4 separate regions of the Homo sapiens genome follow, and regions 2, 3 and 4 are each linked to region 1. The links come from fine-mapping of genetic effects on gene expression. A gene starts in region 1. Each other region holds a variant in brackets. All regions are shown on one strand. Distances are between the middles of the regions. Region 1 holds the start of CHD5 (chromodomain helicase DNA binding protein 5). Region 2 overlaps CHD5 (chromodomain helicase DNA binding protein 5). Region 3 overlaps CHD5 (chromodomain helicase DNA binding protein 5). Region 4 overlaps CHD5 (chromodomain helicase DNA binding protein 5).

Region 1 (4,834 bases):
CTTGTTCTTGCAACGCAGAGTTGCAAGTTTCAGGGATTGCTTTTAACGTCATGCATTTTTGGTCCGTTGTCATTAAAATACCCATTTAATAGTTTAACAATAATAAGGGCTCACCTTTAAAAATGACTGGAGAGCCGGGCATGGTGGCTCACGCCTGTAATCCCAGCACTTTGGGAGGCCGAGGCAGGCGGATCACGAGGTCAGGAGATTGAGATCATCCTGGCCAACAGGGTGAAACTCTGTCTCTACCAAAATACAAAAAATTAGCCAGGTGTGGTGGTGCGCGCCTGTAGTCCCAGCTGCTACTGGGGAGGCTGAGGCAGGGGAATCGCTTGAACCCGGGAGGCGGAGATTTGCAGTGAGCTGAGATTGCGCCACTGCACCCCAGCCTGACGACAGACACCATCTCAACTCCCCCCCTTGAAAAAAAAAACCCAAAAAACCTGGAGATTTGTAGTAAAAAAATCCATTTGTTTCTAGCATTCCAGTTTTTGTTTCATTTTGCTTTTGGACATTAAATAATATTACCTAGTTGCAGTCATCGGGAAGAACAGGATGGGGAGAGGATTATGACTGATGAGCATCTCGGCTCTAATTTGTTGCCAGATTAAGCAGTTAGAACTGTTCTTTCTTGAACGATATCTTGACTTTCAGCCTCGCCTTGGGAATTGGAGCCAGGGTTAATGATGGGGGCGGCTTTCTGGTGATGAGAAGTATTGTAAATCAGAGTTTTTCTACCGAAGGGCAGGGGACCTTTGAAAGGGATTAGAGAGGTGTTGGGGGGCTGGTAACTGAGGGGTGGGCGTGTCAGCTTAGGGCTTTCTTCCCTTGTTGGTCACCATTCATGGAGGCAGTTGGTCTGGAAAGAACGAGGAAGAGGCAGGTTTGGTTCAAGCCTCGGTGATCTGGGGCTCCCCCTGGCTAGCTGCTCTGTGGGGAAACACGGCCTTGGGAGGGGAGGCCCTTTGGTTTCCTGGCCTGCTTCCCTGAAGAGTGTTCCTTTCCCCTTGCAGGCGGCCAGCACTGGGCTGACCCGGCTTCTCTATCTACAGCGTAGTTAAAGCGGATCTGGGAGATGGAGGGGTTCCCAACACCCCAGTCTTTGGTTCCAGAAGGCTGGACCGACCTCTCCTTGCCCAGGGATGAATGCAGAGGGTCTTTTGTTTGGGGTTTGCTGGCAATAAAATTGAACGGGAAGAAGGGAAACTGCTGCCGATCCTGCGTGTCTCAGGTGGGTTCCCCCAGTGCCCCTGCGAGGCAGTGAGAGGGGGCCCTCCCTTCACGGGCCTTCTGGGGTTAGAGAGCTGGCGGTCGGCCAGCCCCTGGAACTTTTGCGTTCTTAAGGTAGCTTTAAGACTTGCCGCCGCGGAGACTGGAGGCGCTCATTTAAAATTCCAGTCTTGCTCCCGAGGGCTTTGGCCTCCATCTTCACCTTTAACGACCGAGGGCTGGTGGCGGCGGCTCCTTCCTGCTCTGCGACAGGTGTCGCTTCTGAGCGGGAGTTTTGGGCACAGACATCGCAGATCCGCACCACCCCTAGGGGTCTGCATGGGTTTCAGCTGCACCCAGCCTGGAGGGGCTTTTTGGAAGGGGGCACGTGGGCGGTGGGAGCGGGGAAGCAGGTGAGGGGAGCCCGCCTGCGCGGATTTTTCTGCTGTAAATCAGACCCACAGTCTCCAGAGCGTCTTTTCCCCAAGTGTGGAACACATTTTTCTTCTAATCCTCTTTGGAGAGGGGGTTAGGAACGTGCCGAGGCCGGAGCCGGGAGCGGGGTGGGTCCCGGCGCCTGTGAACCGAGTGGGGGAGCGGGCCGCGCGCTGCCCTGAAGACCCTGCCTCCGCGCCCTTGGGGGCTCGGGGCCCAGCGCCTTCGCAGGCGAGCGGCGGCGGCTGGCTCTGCCCGGGGTGCGCGGGGGCGGTGTTTCCTCGCCTCCCCCTGCGCCCGGGCTCGCCAAGCCCCGACTGCCCGCTCGGCCGTCGGGTCCGCGGGCGCGCGGACGCCTCGACGGCTCCCCCTGCCGGGGCGCCCCCCGGTCCCCACCCTCACCCGGCGGCTCAGGACTAGTCCCCCAACTTGTTCTCTGCTGTTAACTAGTCGCGCTGCCGGAACGATGGGATGGGGTTGCCACAGCAACCAGACTGGACGTCACAATCCGGGCATGTGTGCCGCCCCCCCGCCGTGCCGCCGTGCCTCTGGCGCTGCCGCCGCCACCCTCGGCCGGCTGCGGGACTCGGGCTGCGGGGCGCGGTGGGAGGAGCGCCCGGGCTTTGCGGGGAGCAGGCTAAGGCGGCCGAGAGAAAGGGGGGTCGAGACGGGGGGGTGGAGGTTTGGGGGGGTGGGGGGGCAGGCGGCCGCCATCTTCTCGCCGAGGCCGCCTCGCCCGCCGCGCGCGCCGGTCCGGCAGCGCACGGGTTAAGGCTGGCACCGCGCCCGGCGGGAGGGGGGGCGCCCACCTCCCCTCCTCCCCGCGCCGGGCATGCGGGGCCCAGTGGGCACCGAGGAGGAGCTGCCGCGGCTGTTCGCCGAGGAGATGGAGAATGAGGACGAGATGTCAGGTGAGCGGGGCGCGGGTGCGCCTGGGGCCAGAGCGGCGGGGGCGCCGAGACGGGCCGGGCCCAGGGCGGAGCGCGGGCGGCGGGGGCGGCGCGGCCGGGCTGGCGCCTCGCAGGAGGGGCACCCGGGTTGCGGGGCTGCGCTCCCGCCCTGCTGGCGCCGCGCGGCCAAGGGCGAAGGCTGGGTGAGCGCCCGGGCCGGCGTGAGGGCGGCTAAGGGCGGGGTGCGATCCGGGCCCCCCGGGCGGCGACGCGGGCCAGGCGGGCCAGAGGACCGCGGGCCGGGGCCTGCGCTGGGGGGCGCGGCGCTGTCAGGGTCAGCCCGCGTGCCCTTGAAGGGGGCGGGAATCGCGCTAGCTCCCGGAGCGGCGCACCCCGCGCTCGCGTCCCGCCGCCGTGCGCCTCTGGCCTCGCTGCGGGCAGGCGGGACCCGGCCCCTGGCCCATGTCGGCCGCGGGGCGGGCTGGGTGGGGCCCAGAGAGGGGCGAGGACCGGCGGTGCTTGGGGACGCGTTGAGCGCCCAGGATGGGGCGGCTTCCCTCCCGGCCCAGGAGGACTCCGCTCTGGGACGCACGGGCTCGGACCCCTGCTCCTCTTTCCTGGCCTCTGTGCGCTGTGACCGCCGCTCCCAAGCACTTTACCCGGGCCGCCGGCGTCCTTCTGGCGCGACCTAGCGCCCGCCGCTGTCTCCAGCCTCACCATCGCCCAGGGTGGTGGCCGTTCCCAGCCCACCCTGCCTTGGCTACGGGCCTGACGCCCCAGGGCCACCGCCCCTGCCCCTACCATCTCTCTCCTTTTATCTCTCTCAGAATTTAGTATACACAGGGCTGTGCGCCAGGGGTTGCCTTGCGGGACAGTTCTTTAGTTAACTGCTCACCATTTGTTTGGGACGTTTTCCCTCCTGGCACAGCTGGGTAGGGCCCCACCCTGTCAGCCACCCTCCCTCCTTTCTGGGAGACTCTTACTTCTCGGCTTCCCTGCGCCAAGTCTGTGGCCTCTCTGGACTTCGGAGAGACTTGTGGGAGGCTGGAGGCCCTCCCGGGCCCAGGAACGTGCATCTGGCCCCTTCTGACTTCCAGGGGTGAGAAGACTCCACAAATGGACACCTCCAGCTCCTGTTGGAGGAAGCAGCCAGCGTCTTCTGGGGAGGGTATTCCCACCAGGTGGCCACACCCCCTGCCCCCTTCTGTTTGCTTGCTTGGTTAGTTGGTGGCTTTAATGCTGTCACTGAGCTCCTACAGGAGCCCGGCACTCACCTCGCCTGTTAGACAGGCCAAGTTGGCAGCGAGCGTGCTGGGGACGGGGAATAGGGGAGTCCTCTCTTGGGGTGGAGTTGCCTGGACAATAGTTGACTGTCATATCCTGGGTCCTTGGAATTAGACCCATTCTCCGGAGGGGAACTCTGAGGCCCCGCACAGGCACAAAAAAAAATCAGTGGCCATTTTCCACCTAGGAGGCTGGCTCCCCAGTAAGCCAGTTTACTGGTTTTCTCAGCAAGTTGTTTGTTATGGTGTTTGGGGTGTGGCCCTTTTGTGGGATCAGTGGCATTTCTGGGGTTGCACCGACCCGCTGGTGGAGTCCCCTGGCTGTCTTTCCCATCTTACACTCCGGCTCTCTCTGACTATGTGGGGACTTAGAGGTTGGGGAGGGGAAGAGGCCAGGGAAGGTGCCCCCAGTCTAGTAGGCACCCGACTCACTGCTTGGGCCAGAGAGGCGGGGCTCTGGTCATCCTGCCCACCACCCGTGCTCCCCCTCGGTGGGTTGGCCCCAGAGCCTCCAGGAGTGCCCCCAGAGCCCTGCAGAAGAGACGCCCTGCTCTGGCACCTCTGGCCTGGGGATTCTGTCCCCATCCATCAGCAAGGCCAGCTGCTCCACCTCCAGAGCCTTTCCAGGCTCCTGGCTTCTCTCCATGTTCTGGGTCCAAGCCTCTGTCCCCTCCTGCCGGTCCCCTCCAGGGCCTTCTACCCACTCCTTCTGACCACCCACTGCACAGCAGCTGGGGTCACCTCGTGAACCCAAGTCAGATCCCGACCCGCATGGCTCCAGTCGCCTCTGAAACCCTTGTCCCGGGTCCACTCCTGTACCCCTTTGTTCACAGCAGCCACGCTGGCCTCCTTGCTGCTTCTGGAACACTCCACGCTCCACGCTCCATCCTGCCATGGGGCCCTGGCTGTGACCTCTGCCTGACCTGCTCTTTCCTCTGCTCACCGCTGCCTCCTGGTCATTTAGGTCCCAGCTCGAATGTTATGATGGGGAGGGACACCCTTGCTAAGGGCCTTCCA
Region 2 (4,834 bases), 25 kb after region 1:
CACTCTGCCTCTGCTGTGGCAGTGTTGGGCTCAGGCCAGGCACCCTCATGGCTGAGCATTCTTGTGGCTGAGAATGAGGGCAGCAGCAGCTCGGGGCTTCTTGGCCCCTCCAGCAGGAGGGAGAGCAGGCCTCCCATGTCCAGGTATGCAGGCAGGAGACCAGCATTCCCTCTGATTGGACTGGCTTAAGACATGACTGGCCTGACCAGACTTTGGCCTAGGAGTGGTGTGTACTGATTGGCTTAATGTATCAGGTTGGGTGGGGGCAGCTCAGGGCTGCTTGGAAGAAGTGGGGTGTCAGGGAAGGAAGAAGAAGGGTGGGTTGGGTGCTAACAATTGCTAACGCATTTTGACACACCCTGTTCCAAGCACCTGCACTAAGTCATTCTGTTCTGCAAGGCAGTGTGCCATTATCTCCATTTTACAGATGGGGAAACCGAGGCAGGAAAGTTAAGTAACTTATCCACTTCTTACCACCGGTATGTGGCAGAGCCAGGATCAGAACCAGCCCATGCCCACATCCGGCACCTCCCTTTCTGAGCCCCGCCAGCCCGGGCCTGGTCATCTGGTCACCTGACCCCTGGGCTAGCTCTCTTGAGAACTCACTGTGCCCCTGGGATGTCCCCCCACCCCAGGCCTCAGCAGTAGTTGGATCCTCTCAGGGCTGTGCCCCCAGGATGTCCCTCCACCCCAGGCCTCAGCAGTAGTTGGATCCTCTCTGGGCTGTGCCCCCAGCTGGCCCATTGTCCCATGCCCCTGCCCCAGCAGAGTGCACTTTCCTTTCACTGGAAACTGGCAGTGGCCTGTCCTTCACAAGGGCTGACGTAGCTATACCTGGCATCCTGGGGAGGCCTCATGTCTTTTTTTTTTTTTTTTTTTTTGAGACAGAATCTTGCTCTGTCACCCAGGCTGGAGTGCAGTGGCGCCATCTCGGCTCACTGCAACCTCCGTCTCCCGAGTTCAAGTGATTCTCCTGCCTCAGGCTCACAAATAGCTGAGATTACAGGCACACACCAACACACCCAACTAATTTTTGTATTTTAGTAGAGACAGGGTTTCAGCATGTTGGCCCGGCTGGTCTCTAACTCCTGACCTCAAATGATCTGTCTGCCTTGGCCTCCCAAAGTGTTGGGATTACGGGCGTGAGCCACCACCCCTGGCCTGGAGGCCTCATGTCTTTCTAAAGTGGCTTAGGCAGCCCTGGAGCCCTGCGGCCTCATCAGGGACATCTTCCCGTCTTCAGGCCACTGTGCTGTCCTGCTGTCCAAATCCCCAGAATGCAGTCCCCACAGAGGGCAAGTTCTGTTGTCCTGCCCTGGTGTCCCGAGGCTGGTCGGGCAGCCCTATCTCAGGATGGGGGCCTGGTCTCAGGCATCCAGTCTCCTTGCCCACACCTGGCTGATTTCCCTTTCTGGAAGTTCAGGGCACACACATGGCCTCTCCCCAAACCCTGACGTCGAACACTTGGCCTGCACTTCGTGGGCTGGCATCTGAGACGTGGCACAGATTGGGGGCTGCGGGGCTGCGGGGCTGCAGGGCTTGAATGTTTCCTAGGGTGGGTGAGAATGGTCTGGTTACATTGCAGACACAACCCCTCCTCTTTCCCCTGTGCCAAAGCCTCCTAGGCAGAGACCCTGGGGATGGGGGTGCAGGTCAGAAGGCCCCTCAACAACTCTACCTCTGGCCTGGGTCTCTGTAGGAGCCCAAGTCCTCGGGGCAGCTCATGGCCGAGTGGGGCCTGGACGACGTGGACTACCTGTTCTCGGAGGAGGATTACCACACGCTGACCAACTACAAGGCCTTCAGCCAGTTCCTCAGGTGGGCGGGGCACTAGGGCTGTTCTCCAGGCCCGCACATCCTCTGGTGGTACCAAGTCGGGAGGGAGGCAGAGGAGTGAAGCCCCGGCACCTGGGGTAGGGGTGGGCTCTGTCAGACCGACTGAGCAACCT[G/A]GGGGAGCTGGAGGGAGGGGGCAGGACCCCTTCATGTTAACAGACCACCAGGCCTTCCCTTGTGGGCCCTGCCCCTCAGCCCTTGAGTCTCTTCCCCTTGGGGAAGGTGGTTCCAGTCTTTCCTGGGGGGTCTTTCACCACCATGGCCTCTCAGCTCTGGTAGAGGTGGGACGGAGACCCCAAGGCCCACTGTAGCCCACCTGTGGCCCCACAAGTCTTGCAGGGCCTGAAAACCCAATGAGAAAATCACCAACTGTGTGGACAGGAAGCTGGGGTGTTTTGGGGGTGGGCTGTGGGTGTGGACAGGAAGCTGGGTGTTTTGGGGGTGGGCTGTGGGTGTGGACAGGAAGCTGGGTGTTTTGGGGGTGGGCTGTGGGTGTGGACAGGAAGCTGGGGCGTTTTGGGGGTGGGCTGTGGTCAGTGGGTTTCCCGCCTAATCTCTCTAATCAGGAACCTGGGGCTGCTGCCATAGATCGCACATGTGGCAGAGGGGTGGGCCCTGCCGGGGGTCGGGTGGGCCTCTCATCTCACCTGGCCTTGCCCTCACCCTCCTGCCTCTCCCCCTACAGGCCACTCATTGCCAAGAAGAACCCGAAGATCCCCATGTCCAAAATGATGACCGTCCTGGGTGCCAAGTGGCGGGAGTTCAGCGCCAACAACCCCTTCAAGGGCAGCTCCGCGGCAGCAGCGGCGGCGGCGGTGGCTGCGGCTGTAGAGACGGTCACCATCTCCCCTCCGCTAGCCGTCAGCCCCCCGCAGGTGCCCCAGCCTGTGCCTATCCGCAAGGCCAAGACCAAGGAGGGCAAAGGTAAGGCTGGGGTTGGGTGGGCACCTAGTCCCGCTGGGAAGAGGTCCCTTTCAGACCCTATAGGAGAAGCCACGGGGCAGACGCGGGCAGGGAGGGGCAGCTGGGGTGCTCCTAATGGAGGGCTCTGTGCCTGTGTGACCTTGGATTGCCCGGTCCTTTCTCAGCAGTGAGGCAGCATCGTCGCCTCTTTTGTGCCTGACTCCCTTTTGGGGTTGGTGGAGAAGCAGAGGCGATGATGTGGGCAGAGGTCTGGGAGGTTTGAGCCTGGCCAGCCAGGAGGTGCCCCCGACGTGGGCCTGGAGGGAGGGCGGGACCAGAGGTACGCAGAGTGGAGCCGCTCCAGCCTGGGTTTCTGGGAGTTGGCAGGCTCTTGGGTTTGAGCCTGTGCCGTTTCTGGGGAGGAGGAGGAGGCCCCAGTCGAGCCCGTCTCTTCTTCTTGTCTGCATACCCACTGTGTGCAGGGTTGTTCTCCAGGCCCTCGGCCAATGTGGAGCATGGAGGCCCTGCCCCTCCAGCTTTAGGATCCGGGAAGCAGGCAGGAGTTGGAGGGACTGGGCACGGCCAGGTCTCGCTTCCCAGGGAGGCTGTTCTGGGACAGGCCTGGAAGGAGATCGAGATCCAAATTCTGCCTCAGTGGCAGGGCGTCTGGGTGGGGAGGATGCAGGCAGCAGAGGCCCCCTGTGACTTGAAGGCCCTGGGGAGGGAGCTTTCTGGGTGCAGGTTTCTGGCCTTTTGGAGGCTGGGGATGTTGATCTCCCCAGGGCTGTCAGTCACCTGCAGCTCAGCTTTCCTGGGTGCCCTGATTTGTTTTGTTTTGTTTTGTTTTGTTTTGACAGACTCTCACTCTGTCTCCCAGGCTGGAGTGCAGTGGCACGATCTCTGCACACTGCAACCTCCGCCTCCTGGGTTCAAGCAATTCTCCTGCCTCAGCCTCCTGAGTAGCTGGGATTACAGGAGTGCATCACCACACCTGGCTAATTTTTTGTATTTTTAGTAGAGACGGGGTTTCACCGTGTTGGCCAGGCTGGTCTCAGAACTCCTGACCTCAGGTGATCTGCCCACCTCGGCCTCCCAAAGTGCTGGGATTGCAGGTGTGAGCCACCGCGTCTGGCTGATTTGGGTTTTGATGGAAGGGGCTGAGGGGGCTCCGGGGATCCCTTCTTTCAGCCCCAAGGAGCTTTAGTTTCTGGGGTTCTGTGTCTGGCATCACCATGCCAAGTCTCTGAAGGGAGCCTGGTGGGTGAAGTGACAAGGGTCAGAGTCTGTTCCCTGTCCTGCTCCATCTGTCTGGGCCATCAGGATCTCGGGAGGGGCTCCTGGCCCGCCCCTGTCTGCCCAGCCTGCCTTGTTTTCTCATTTCCTCTCGCGCTCCAGCTGCTGAGCTATCGATTCCATGAGCTGCTTATTCAGAGCTTGGAAAATTGAAATAGATTTTCCGCGGCGCCATGGAGGGTGCAGCTGGGCTCCTAGCTCCATGTCCGTGTGTGTGGTGTGGCCAGAGGACGGCCTGGGGAGAGGCTGCCTCTGTGGGGTGTGCATCCCTGCCTCCAGGCCCCCCTTCCTTCTTGGGTCATTACTCCCCAGGTAGCTAATTGCCCTGTGGCCAGCTCCATAAAAACAGCCTCAGCCCTGCTGGCCCTTGCTGGGGTTGACTGGCAGAGGTGGGGCAGTCTTGGGTGGGACCAGCATTGCCTGGCTGGCAGGTGGGAAAAGGCCTTTTGGCTCCAAGACATCCTTTGGGGGCTCAGGCATGGACCACAGGTGGGCGGCTGTGCCTTCAGTGGCCCTGCTGGCTGTGGGGGATGGCTAGTGCCTCCTTTCAGTGGTTGGAGACGGTATAGGGGATCCTCCCAAAAGGGCCACATTTCTGTGGGTCATGGACAAGGGGCAGCAAGGCGGTCAGGGCAGCCTCCAGTCAGAGCCGTCATCTGGTTTTTGCCTCACTTGCTGTGTGATTTTAAGCAAGGGGTTTACCTCTCCAAGCCTCAGGCATCTCATCTGAAACGGGGTGATGGTAGAAATGACCCTTTCCTTATTGGGTAACCGAGAGCTCAGTGAGATGATGGCAGGAAGCAGG
Region 3 (4,834 bases), 33 kb after region 1:
ATCCATCCACTTGTCCATCCATCCATCCATCCATCATCCGTCCATTTGTCCATTCATCATCCATCCATCCTTCCATCCACCTATCCATCCATCCATTTGTCCATCCATCCATCCATCCATCAGTCCACCCATTTCCATTTGTCCATCCATTTGTCCATTCATCATCCATCCATCCATCCATTTGTCCATCCATTCATCTATCCATCCATTTGTCTATCCATCCATCATCCATTTATCCATTCATCTTTCTACCCATCCACCCACTCTCCTACCCTTCCTTCCTTCCTTCTTTCCTTTTATCCATCTTCTATCTCCTCACCCTTTTACCACCTCAACCATCAGTCTATTCACCCACCCACCTTTCCATCCACCCTCTATTAGACATCTACTCTGTGCCTGTCTGGCCTGGGGCGATGCAGTTGGTTGTGTGCTGGGAGTGTGGATGAGGACTTCCATGACTGCCTCTCCCCTACCCTAGTTGATGATGGTGACGGCTATGAGACAGACCACCAGGATTACTGTGAGGTGTGCCAGCAGGGTGGGGAGATCATCCTGTGCGACACCTGCCCGAGGGCCTACCATCTCGTATGCCTGGACCCAGAGCTGGAGAAGGCTCCCGAGGGCAAGTGGAGCTGCCCCCACTGTGTAAGCCTTGGCAGAGCCCCGGGCTGGGGGCGGGGCCACGCCTGGCTCCCCCACCCCTGTGCCCTCATTTGGGGGCAGAATGCGGGGAGATGCTGTAGGGGAGGGAGGGAGTCGGGCCTGGTGGAGCGGGGACCCCGCCCAGGGTGCCTCCACCTGGCCTCCTCCCCCAGGAGAAGGAGGGGATCCAGTGGGAGCCGAAGGACGACGACGATGAAGAGGAGGAGGGCGGCTGCGAGGAGGAGGAGGACGACCACATGGAGTTCTGCCGCGTGTGCAAGGACGGGGGCGAGCTGCTCTGCTGCGACGCCTGCCCCTCCTCCTACCACCTGCATTGCCTCAACCCGCCGCTGCCCGAGATCCCAAACGGTGAATGGCTCTGCCCGCGCTGTACTGTGAGTGTTCCGCCCGCCCCGCGCCGGACGCCCCGCCCCACCCCAGGAACAGGCCCCGCCCCCAGGGGAAGGCCTGCCCTCCTCAAAAGGCCCCGCCCCTGCCGGCTCCTGCCCCGCCTCGGTAGCCGATCCCGCAAAGCTTCGCCCGCGCTGCTCGAGACCCCGTCCACAATAGCTTCCTCGCGCCCTTCTCCGCGTCTGACTCCCCTAGAGACGGGAGGCATGAGTGTTAGGGAAAGGCAGACAGGTGTGGTGATCATGCCAACACCGCGACCACTGTTCAGTGACCACGTGCTCTGCAAGGGCTCCACATCCATCATAGTGTCCTTTAACATTACTGAGTATTCTGGCACCAGGCATGTTACTCCCTTTTTAGATGAGAAAACTGATGCTCAGGGAAGCAGAGTGACCTGCCTAAGGCCACACAAGGGCAGAACTATCCACTCAAATTCAGGTTCCTGGAGCCACCCCAGACCTGGCTCCTGTTCCAAGGCTGGGGATAGGGAGAGGGCAGGAGGCTTCTAGGGCAGGAGGCTCCTAGGGCGGGAGCCTCAGTTTCTACAGGAAGAGGGGCACCCCCCATCCGTCACCCCCCAGTCACAGTAGACATCGGAAGGCCCCTTGCTCTGAGCTGTCTGTCCTGCCCCCTGTGGTGCCAGATCCTCCACCCCTCAGGTCCTGGGCTGTGCCTCCTTTAGCCCTGGGCCGTCCTGTGTGCATTGTGCGTGTGTATGTGTGTGCGTGCATCCGTGCGCATACTTGTCTGTGTCTGTGTAGGGGCCAGGGGAGGACCCTTTTGAGGGGTGCAGCCTTCTGTGCTTTCCTAGGATTGATGGAAGGCCCTGGGGATGGGAGGGGGGCAGGAGTGGGGTTCCTCTCAGCTTCTTCCCTGAGGGGCTGGGATGGGGGTAGGAGGGTCCATGGCCTGGGTAGGAAGGGTCCCCTCTTCCACTCCCCCAAGAGCCAGTGGAGGAGCCTTTCCTGCCTCCCATGTCCTCCTCCTCCTCCTCTGCCTCTCGGCCTTTGCTGTCACCAAGGCCAAAGGAAGGCTGGCTGTGTGGTGTACCTTGCACCTCCAGAATGCCTTCAGGTGTGATGTGGCACCACAGATCTGG[T/C]AGGTGGAGGAAGGGGTGGGCCATTTTACAGATGGGAAAGCAGGCTCTGGAGGCTTGGATGAGTTTCCGAGGACAGGTAGTAGCAAAGCTGGGACCTGCTATCCCCACCAGAGCTGTCTCCCTGAATCAGTCACCCCCGACCCTGTCCAGTCAGACAGCACCGCCTCCTTGGAGGGCCAAGGCTGCTCCCACCCATCTCAGGGCCCGAGTGGTGTGGTTTGTGGCTGTTGTATTTCTTGCCTTTGCCAGCCAGCAGCTCACTGTCACCCTAGCATCTGTCAGGGCCCCTGCAGTGTGTCTGTGGGCTGCCAGAGATGGGGCCTCATTGTCCCAGCCTAGACGCACGGTGCCTGGGTGCAGCCCTGCCCCGGGTGAGGGATGGTGGATGGGGCTGCCGTGTCCCTGGGCTCCAGCACAGGGCTCATGCTCCCTGAGTGCTTGGGGATCACACAGTGATGTGACCTCTTTTCAGGGGGCAATGGGAAGACCTAAGGTAGGGGAAGTCCAGAATCTCATGTTCTGCTCCCTGCTCTGCTGTCCCTTGCCGAGTGGGCCTCAGTTTCCCCCTCTGTCCTATGCACATGGCAGTCTCACCTACGCTGGCTCAGATATTCTGGGTGCCGATAAGTTCACCATTGAGTGAAAGGGCCACGTGGTCTCACAGACCCCCACTGCCCATCTCCTGTGTGCATGACCCATGCGGCTCCTGGGGACGGGGTGGATGTCATGGCGTCACCGTGGTACTGTTCTGACTTGGGGGCAGTGGCACTGATGGGAGGGAGCCTGCATGGCAGCCTGCTGTCATGGGAGCCTCAGGGTGGGGCCCTGCAGCTGAGCCCCACCTTGGGGACCCTTCTCTGTCCACAGTGCCCCCCACTGAAGGGCAAAGTCCAGCGGATTCTACACTGGAGGTGGACGGAGCCCCCTGCCCCCTTCATGGTGGGGCTGCCGGGGCCTGACGTGGAGCCCAGCCTCCCTCCACCTAAGCCCCTGGAGGGCATCCCTGAGAGAGAGTTCTTTGTCAAGTGGGCAGGGCTGTCCTACTGGCATTGCTCCTGGGTGAAGGAGCTACAGGTGAGTGCCCGGGAGGGTGGCTGTGCTAAGGCCCGGGACCTGGTGAGCCCTGGACCCTCCTGGGCTGGCGGGAAGGGGCTGAAGCGCCTCTGACTGAGGGGTGCTGTTGGGAGTTGGGGTGGTGCTGAGCGGGAGGATTGTCCTGCCTGGGACCTGGGCTGGGGCTAGAGGAGCTGGGTAGGGAGATGCAGGGGACCATGGCCCATCTCCCTTCTGTGACTTTGTGCCGCTCCATGAGCAGCTGGAGCTGTACCACACGGTGATGTATCGCAACTACCAAAGAAAGAACGACATGGATGAGCCGCCCCCCTTTGACTACGGCTCTGGGGATGAAGACGGCAAGAGCGAGAAGAGGAAGAACAAGGACCCCCTCTATGCCAAGATGGAGGAGCGCTTCTACCGCTATGGCATCAAGCCAGAGTGGATGATGATTCACCGAATCCTGAACCATAGGTGTGTGCCTGCAGGCGGCCACCCTGCCCATCGCTGGGGCCGGGCCACGTCAGCTTCTTTGCCCTGTAAAATGGGTGCAGCGCAGGGTGCCAGGGCCCTTGCTTTGGGGCTGCCGTGCAGAACCACATGTGGGCACAGCAGGGGCACAAGGAAGGGCCCAGGGTTCCCAGTGCTGGAGATCTGCCTGACCTGCTAGAGGGGCCGTCCCATGCATGCCGGCACACTCATGCATACGTGTTCACACCCCTGGGGCGTCGGGACCCTCATGCTGGGTTAGTGCTTGATACCAGCAAGAGGGTTCTGAGGACGAGGGACGCCCGAGGTGTGGGAGTATGTCCACATTTCCCCCGCGTTTGTAACAGCAGCTGGCTGTACTGAGCACTGCCTACCCTGGGAGGGAGGCGTCTTACTTTCACCTCTGTTTTACTGATGTGAGAATAGGCACAGCAAGGTTAAGTCGCCAGAATCACACAGCCACGGGGTGGAGCTGGGATTTGAACCCCATGCTTTCTGACTGCAGGACCTGCTTTCTTAGCTACTGTTGCACCCCCCAGTGCCCCAGCAGCAGCTCTTCCTGGAGCAGTCTGGCAGTTCCCTGGGATGCCTTAGCAATCAGAGGCTGCAGGAGGCTGGCACAAAGAGCCAGAGGCAGGAGGCCCGTGGGCTTTGGTTTTGATTTGGTGGGTGGTGGGAATGCCTGCTGATTCTTGAGTTGAGGTGCTTGAGAACTGGTGGTGGCTGACAGATGGGCCTTGGGGTGGGGCCCAGAGTACCTGCTGCCTGGTGGCAGCTTGGAGCTTGTGCTCCCCATCCCAGCTACCCTGTGGCCTCTGTTTTTGAGGGGCTTAGGATCGGTGGCCTCTGACACTCAGTGCTTCTGGCTTCAGGCAGCTGTTGGGTAGAGCAGAGGTTAAAAGCCTGAGCCAGATGTTCAGATTTCAATCCCGGTTCCCATCTGCTGAGCTTTGAGGCCCTTTTAGGGAACAGGCTGCTGCACGGGTGACAGGAGCTTGCCAGAGGCTGGCTGTGGGTGGTCTTCAGTACGAGGGTCGCGGAATTTGAAAAACTGCCCCCCTTCAACTATGGGACACCCCCCTTTTCCTCCCCAGGCCTCCCTGAGAATGACCTTCAAGGGTCAGTTCCTGTGGGAACCTG
Region 4 (4,834 bases), 48 kb after region 1:
CTGTGGTAGGGCTGGTGCGGCTGTGAGCCCTGCCTGGGAACGGGGGGCCTGGAGCCAGGGCCGTGGGACCCACGGTCTACCCCGCACTGTGGGGCCTGGCCTGGCTCGGGTGTGGGTCTCATGTTCAGTGGGCAGACAGGCCATCACCCCATTGCTCAGCACTTGTCTGTTCCCTGCGGCCCCTTTGGTGCAGAGTCAGAGAGGAGAGGGGAGCCCACCAATGCCCCACCTCCTGCTGTGTCTGCAGGAGGCCCCTGTCTTGCCCAATGGCTCCTACGATGGAAGCTCCCTGGTCAAGTCTTCAGGGAAGCTCATGCTGCTACAGAAGATGCTGAAGAAACTGCGGGATGAGGGGCACCGTGTGCTCATCTTCTCCCAGGTGCGCTGCCCCTGCCCACCCCCGCCCCGGCTCCACACCCCACAGAGAGCATCCTGCCCTGATGCTTGGGGGCGCAAACTTGCTGGCACCCCTCAGGGCCCAGTGCCGTTCCCATGTGGGTCATGTGACTGTGTGTCAGGGGTCACTCCCCCGTGCCCTGGCATAATGCGGCTGAGGAGCTCAGAACACATTTGCCATAAAGAGCAACATCTCCCCACACCTGCCCTTCTGGTCTGCATGTCCAGGCTGGTAGGACAGCCCCTCCTCCCCTGCCCTGGCCCTCTCCCCCGCAGCCTGGCTTCTCATTAAGGTAGGGCCCTGGGGTGTGGTTGGGAGGAGCCCCTCTCTCCAATAGGCCCTGAGGGGCCACTGGCACCTGGCTTTTTGGCTTGGAGGCAGGGCCGCCGGCTCAGGTGTGTTCATTTCTTCCTCCATCCCTTTGTTTGCGTCTGTCATAGTCAGGCTCTGTGCTGGCACATGGGTGCAGGGACCAGTGATCTAGTCCCTGTCCTCAAGCTGCTCAGTCTACTGTGGGAGACAGCTCAAGGGACAGGTACCCGACCCTGTGGTCAGCTCTGTGTTGGAGGCCACAGTGATGATCCTACAGGGTCATGGGGCTAAAAATGCTCCTCTCGTGGGCCCACTGAGCCAGGCCCCTTGCTCAAACCCAGAGTCTGGGCTATGGCTCCTTGTGCACAAACATCAACTGAAAGCAGCGTCCGCCGCCTGCAGCCCCAGGTCACCCTGCTGGGCTGCTTCAGCCCGAAGAATACTGGAAAGCAGGGCAAGTTTGAGACCAGGGGCTGAGCCAAGGAGTGGGCTGGAGTGGAGATGGACCCACATCCCCCCAGTACCTCGGTACCAACACGAGACGCAAGTCTGATCAGAGGCCTTGAGATACCAAGTAATGGGAACCACACAGCTTCCAGAAATGTGCACACAGGGCAAGCGACAGAGACGGGGCCCTCCTGCCCAAAATGAGCCTATGAACCCCAATTCCAAACCCATACAAAAGTGAATGCTGAGACATCCCCCAAAACAATAAATAGAATCCAAATAAGAAAATAGGGGCTGGGCGCAGTGGCTCACCCTGTAATCTCAGCGACTTGGGAGGTTGAGGCAGGAGGATTGCTTGAGCCCAGGAGTTCAGGGTTGCAGTGAGCTGTGATCTTGTCACTTCACTCCAGTCTGAGTGACAGAGCAAGACCCTGTCTCTTGAGAGAGAGAGAGAGAGAGAGAGAGAGAGAAAAGAATAGGATAGCCTGAAAAGACTTTACATAGATGTGTTTAGGATCCTCAAAAATGATGGAGTAATTGACACCCTAAAATAAAGAAGAAATTAAGCAAAAGCAGGAAGAACTGAAATAGGAACAATTGGATAGAAACATGCATGAAATTGAGATAAAACATTTCAACAGACTGGACAGACTCTGAACACTGTTGAAGAGAACATTGATAAATTGGAACCTGGTGCTGAGGCATTTTCCCAGAATGCAATGTACAGAGACAAAGATAAAACAGGGAGAACATGGAAGACACCTTGAGATGCTCCAACAATCATCCAATTGGAGTTGCAGAAGAAACAGAAAAAATGGTGAAGAAGTTGGATTTGTTGAGAGTTTGCAGACCTGGAGAGAAATGTGAGGTCTCAGATCTGGAGTGCATTCTGGAATAGCAAGCAAGATAAATATAAATAAATGAACCCGTAGACACGTTAGAACCTCTAGGTACTTTAGACCTAGTACCTACAAAATAAGGGCAGCCAGATCGTTCTCAGACTTCTTAACAACAACAGGTGGCAGAGACCATGGCAAAATCTCCGGTGCACTGAGGGAAAATGTGTGCTGATAGTTTTATATCCAGCTAAACTCTCTCTCGAGAATAAAGGGAATTATACGGGGTCATGGGAGCTCAGAAGGGACTGCCTTTCTTTTCTTATGGGGAGGAGTGAAATCAGGGAAGACATCACAGAGGTGATGTTTATGTTCCCTAGGCAGTAAGGGGGTGGGCATTCCAGGAAGAGAGTCAGGTAGTTTGGAATGGCTGGGG[GC/C]TGTGAAGGAGCACTCGTCCTGCAGCGCCTTGAATACAGGGCAGTGAGATGGAACTTAATTCTGTGTGGTGGGAGCAGGGGAGGCTCATGTCAGAGCCCTGATTTAGGTAAGTGGCTGTGGGGCTAGGCAGGAGGATGGATTGGCTCCAAGGGGTGAGGTTGGAAGCTTTGTTCTTCCCCAGAGTCCTGCATTGGGCCTGCCTGGGTCCCAGCTGTCTCCCCACCTAGCAGGCAGCTCTCTCCTCCCCTGCCTGTGGCGGGGTCCCCGCCCATGGCCCATGGGGCCCCTTGCTCCTTGGCAGTTCCTCACGTGCCCGTCTCCCCTGCAGATGACCAAGATGCTGGACCTCCTGGAGGACTTCCTGGAGTACGAAGGCTACAAGTATGAGCGGATTGATGGTGGCATCACCGGGGGCCTCCGGCAGGAGGCAATCGACAGATTCAATGGTACCCCCATCCTGCCCAAGGGTTCTGATTGAGACTCCTTTTTGGCCTCTTCTCCCAGGCCTGGTTCTTAGCCAGGTCACCCAGCTGGTGTTGTGTTGAGCAGCCTCACAAACAGCTAAAGACAGCAGGCCAGTCCGAGTTTCCAATGTTAAAAGGATTCCTCCCATGGAATCGGAGTTCTGAGGGGCCCAGTAGATAACACCTGTTGGGAATGGAGTTAGACAATGAGAAACGCAGACGGGGCCTCTAATATTGACGCCAGGTGAGCCCCAGTTACAAGTGGTGTTGGACAGAGCCTGCCGTATGGTGAATGGTGGCAGAAGGTACAGAGATGCACGTGCTACCTGGGGCCACTTCCAGAGGCAGGAGAGAGTGAAAGGGCTGGGCCACACATGATCAGGCTCTTTCCCCAGAGTCACCCATGCTTGGTCTTCCCTGCCTGGGAAGGAGAGGCGAGGGTGGAGGTCAGGAGGGTCTTGCCGGTGGAGTTCCTCCTGTAGCAAAAGAAACTTCTGGAGTGGGAAGCAGTCGGCTGTAAGCTTCAGTAGCAAGTTTGCAGCAAATAGTAACAAGCTTTGTTTCCCTGGGGCGTCAGCCCTTAGGGGCTGGGGCCACGCTCTCCAAACGCCCAAAGCAGTGATTCCTCTCAAACACTTGTGCCAGAGAGCCAGGAGGAATAGCAAGTTCAGAGTTTCAGGGTCTAGACGTGGCCCAGCCACATGTGGAAGCAGGAGTGGCTGAAGCCCTGGGTGTGCCAGGGGCCTGTTTGCAGCTCCAGTGGGGGCTGTGGTCAGTCCCAGGTCACTGAAGGGCCCTGAGAGGCTGAGAACCAGCCATCCTGTGACAGGGTTGCCCAGTGGGGTGGGACCCCAGGTCCCGGAGCTGCGCCCCTGAGTTTTCCCGGGCTGCCCTGGCAGCATCGGTGGGCTAAGGGAAGCCAGGGGTGGGAAGCTGCGGGGACATGAAGGACTCTGAGCTCTCTAGGGCTCTGCTTGTACTTGCTGGCGGCTTGCACTTTGTTTTTTGCTCATCTGGGGTTTGAAAATTGACCTCCTCGTTCCAGTGCCCTCCCACTGCACTAGGGCTCAGAGCTCGCTGGGGGCTAAGTGGGCTTGGGCAGGCCTCCTCTGGCTCCCCTGAGTGCAGCTGTGGCCACCCGTCTCTGATGGGGTCTCCGGCTTTGTCCTTCTCTGCCAGGGATCTGTTGCTGCAGTTCCTTCTCTCTGTTCTCTCCCCCATCCTTTCTGCCCACCCAAGGTGTACCCCCCCAAACACTCCCATCTGCTGGCCTCTCTTTTTCAGCCCCCGGGGCCCAGCAGTTCTGCTTCCTCCTCTCAACCCGGGCAGGTGGTCTGGGCATCAACCTGGCCACGGCGGACACTGTCATCATCTACGACTCGGACTGGAACCCGCACAATGACATCCAGGTCTGTGCTGCTGCCGCCCACCACCCTCCCAGGGGGCCTCTCATCCCGGGCCTCAGGCAGGTTCTGTCCTTCATGCCCTTCTTGCCATCACCCCCTCACCTATCCTGGTGCTGTGGGCCTCCCTCCCCCGTGGAGTCTCGGCCCCAAGAGGGGCTCTGGGAGTGAGTGGAAGCTTGGCCCCCATCCCTCCAGCTCTGTCCTTGTCCAGAGGAGGAAGCAGGCTTGGAGAGGGCAGGGGAAGTGTCCCAGGGCGCACAGCAGTTCCTAGTGGCCACTGATCTGGTCTTTCCCATCATCCTCAGGACCAAGGCCGTGGAGGGAGGCAGGAAGAGGGAGCCCTGGGACCCAGAGGGGCACCCATTTTGAAGGGGGTGGGGAGCAGAGAGTGGGGCCTGTTGGAGGTGGAGGGGAGGATAAGATAGTGCAAGGGGCAGATGGGGCTGTAAGGAAGGATGGAAGGGCTGTGGGGGGAGGGGTATGGGAATAGAGCCACCCTAGTGTACCTGGCCACCCCTCTCGGGCGCTGGGACA

The links. PIP is the estimated chance that this variant, and not a neighbour inherited with it, causes the effect.
Region 2: its variant is fine-mapped to the expression of CHD5 in whole blood (TOPMed, PIP above 0.99).
Region 3: its variant is fine-mapped to the expression of CHD5 in whole blood (TOPMed, PIP above 0.99).
Region 4: its variant is fine-mapped to the expression of CHD5 in whole blood (TOPMed, PIP above 0.99).

The regions. Positions count from the first base shown.
Region 1 is chr1:6,177,666-6,182,499 of GRCh38, reverse strand. CHD5 (chromodomain helicase DNA binding protein 5) reads left to right here and starts at 2,179. Exons shown (of 42, transcript NM_015557.3): 1 at 2,179-2,555. The coding sequence starts at 2,477. RefSeq lists enhancers at 2,922-3,421, 3,422-3,923.
Region 2 is chr1:6,152,583-6,157,416 of GRCh38, reverse strand. It overlaps CHD5 (chromodomain helicase DNA binding protein 5), which reads left to right. Exons shown (of 42, transcript NM_015557.3): 4 at 1,700-1,818; 5 at 2,519-2,757. Among named protein-coding and RNA genes, the nearest start is that of CHD5, 25 kb to the left of the region's middle. The variant G/A (reference allele first, on the strand shown) is at 1,950.
Region 3 is chr1:6,145,057-6,149,890 of GRCh38, reverse strand. It overlaps CHD5 (chromodomain helicase DNA binding protein 5), which reads left to right. Exons shown (of 42, transcript NM_015557.3): 8 at 479-645; 9 at 816-1,037; 10 at 3,020-3,226; 11 at 3,468-3,679. Among named protein-coding and RNA genes, the nearest start is that of CHD5, 33 kb to the left of the region's middle. The variant T/C (reference allele first, on the strand shown) is at 2,153.
Region 4 is chr1:6,129,673-6,134,506 of GRCh38, reverse strand. CHD5 (chromodomain helicase DNA binding protein 5) reads left to right here. Exons shown (of 42, transcript NM_015557.3): 20 at 248-379; 21 at 2,759-2,876; 22 at 4,179-4,303. Among named protein-coding and RNA genes, the nearest start is that of CHD5, 48 kb to the left of the region's middle. The variant GC/C (reference allele first, on the strand shown) is at 2,429.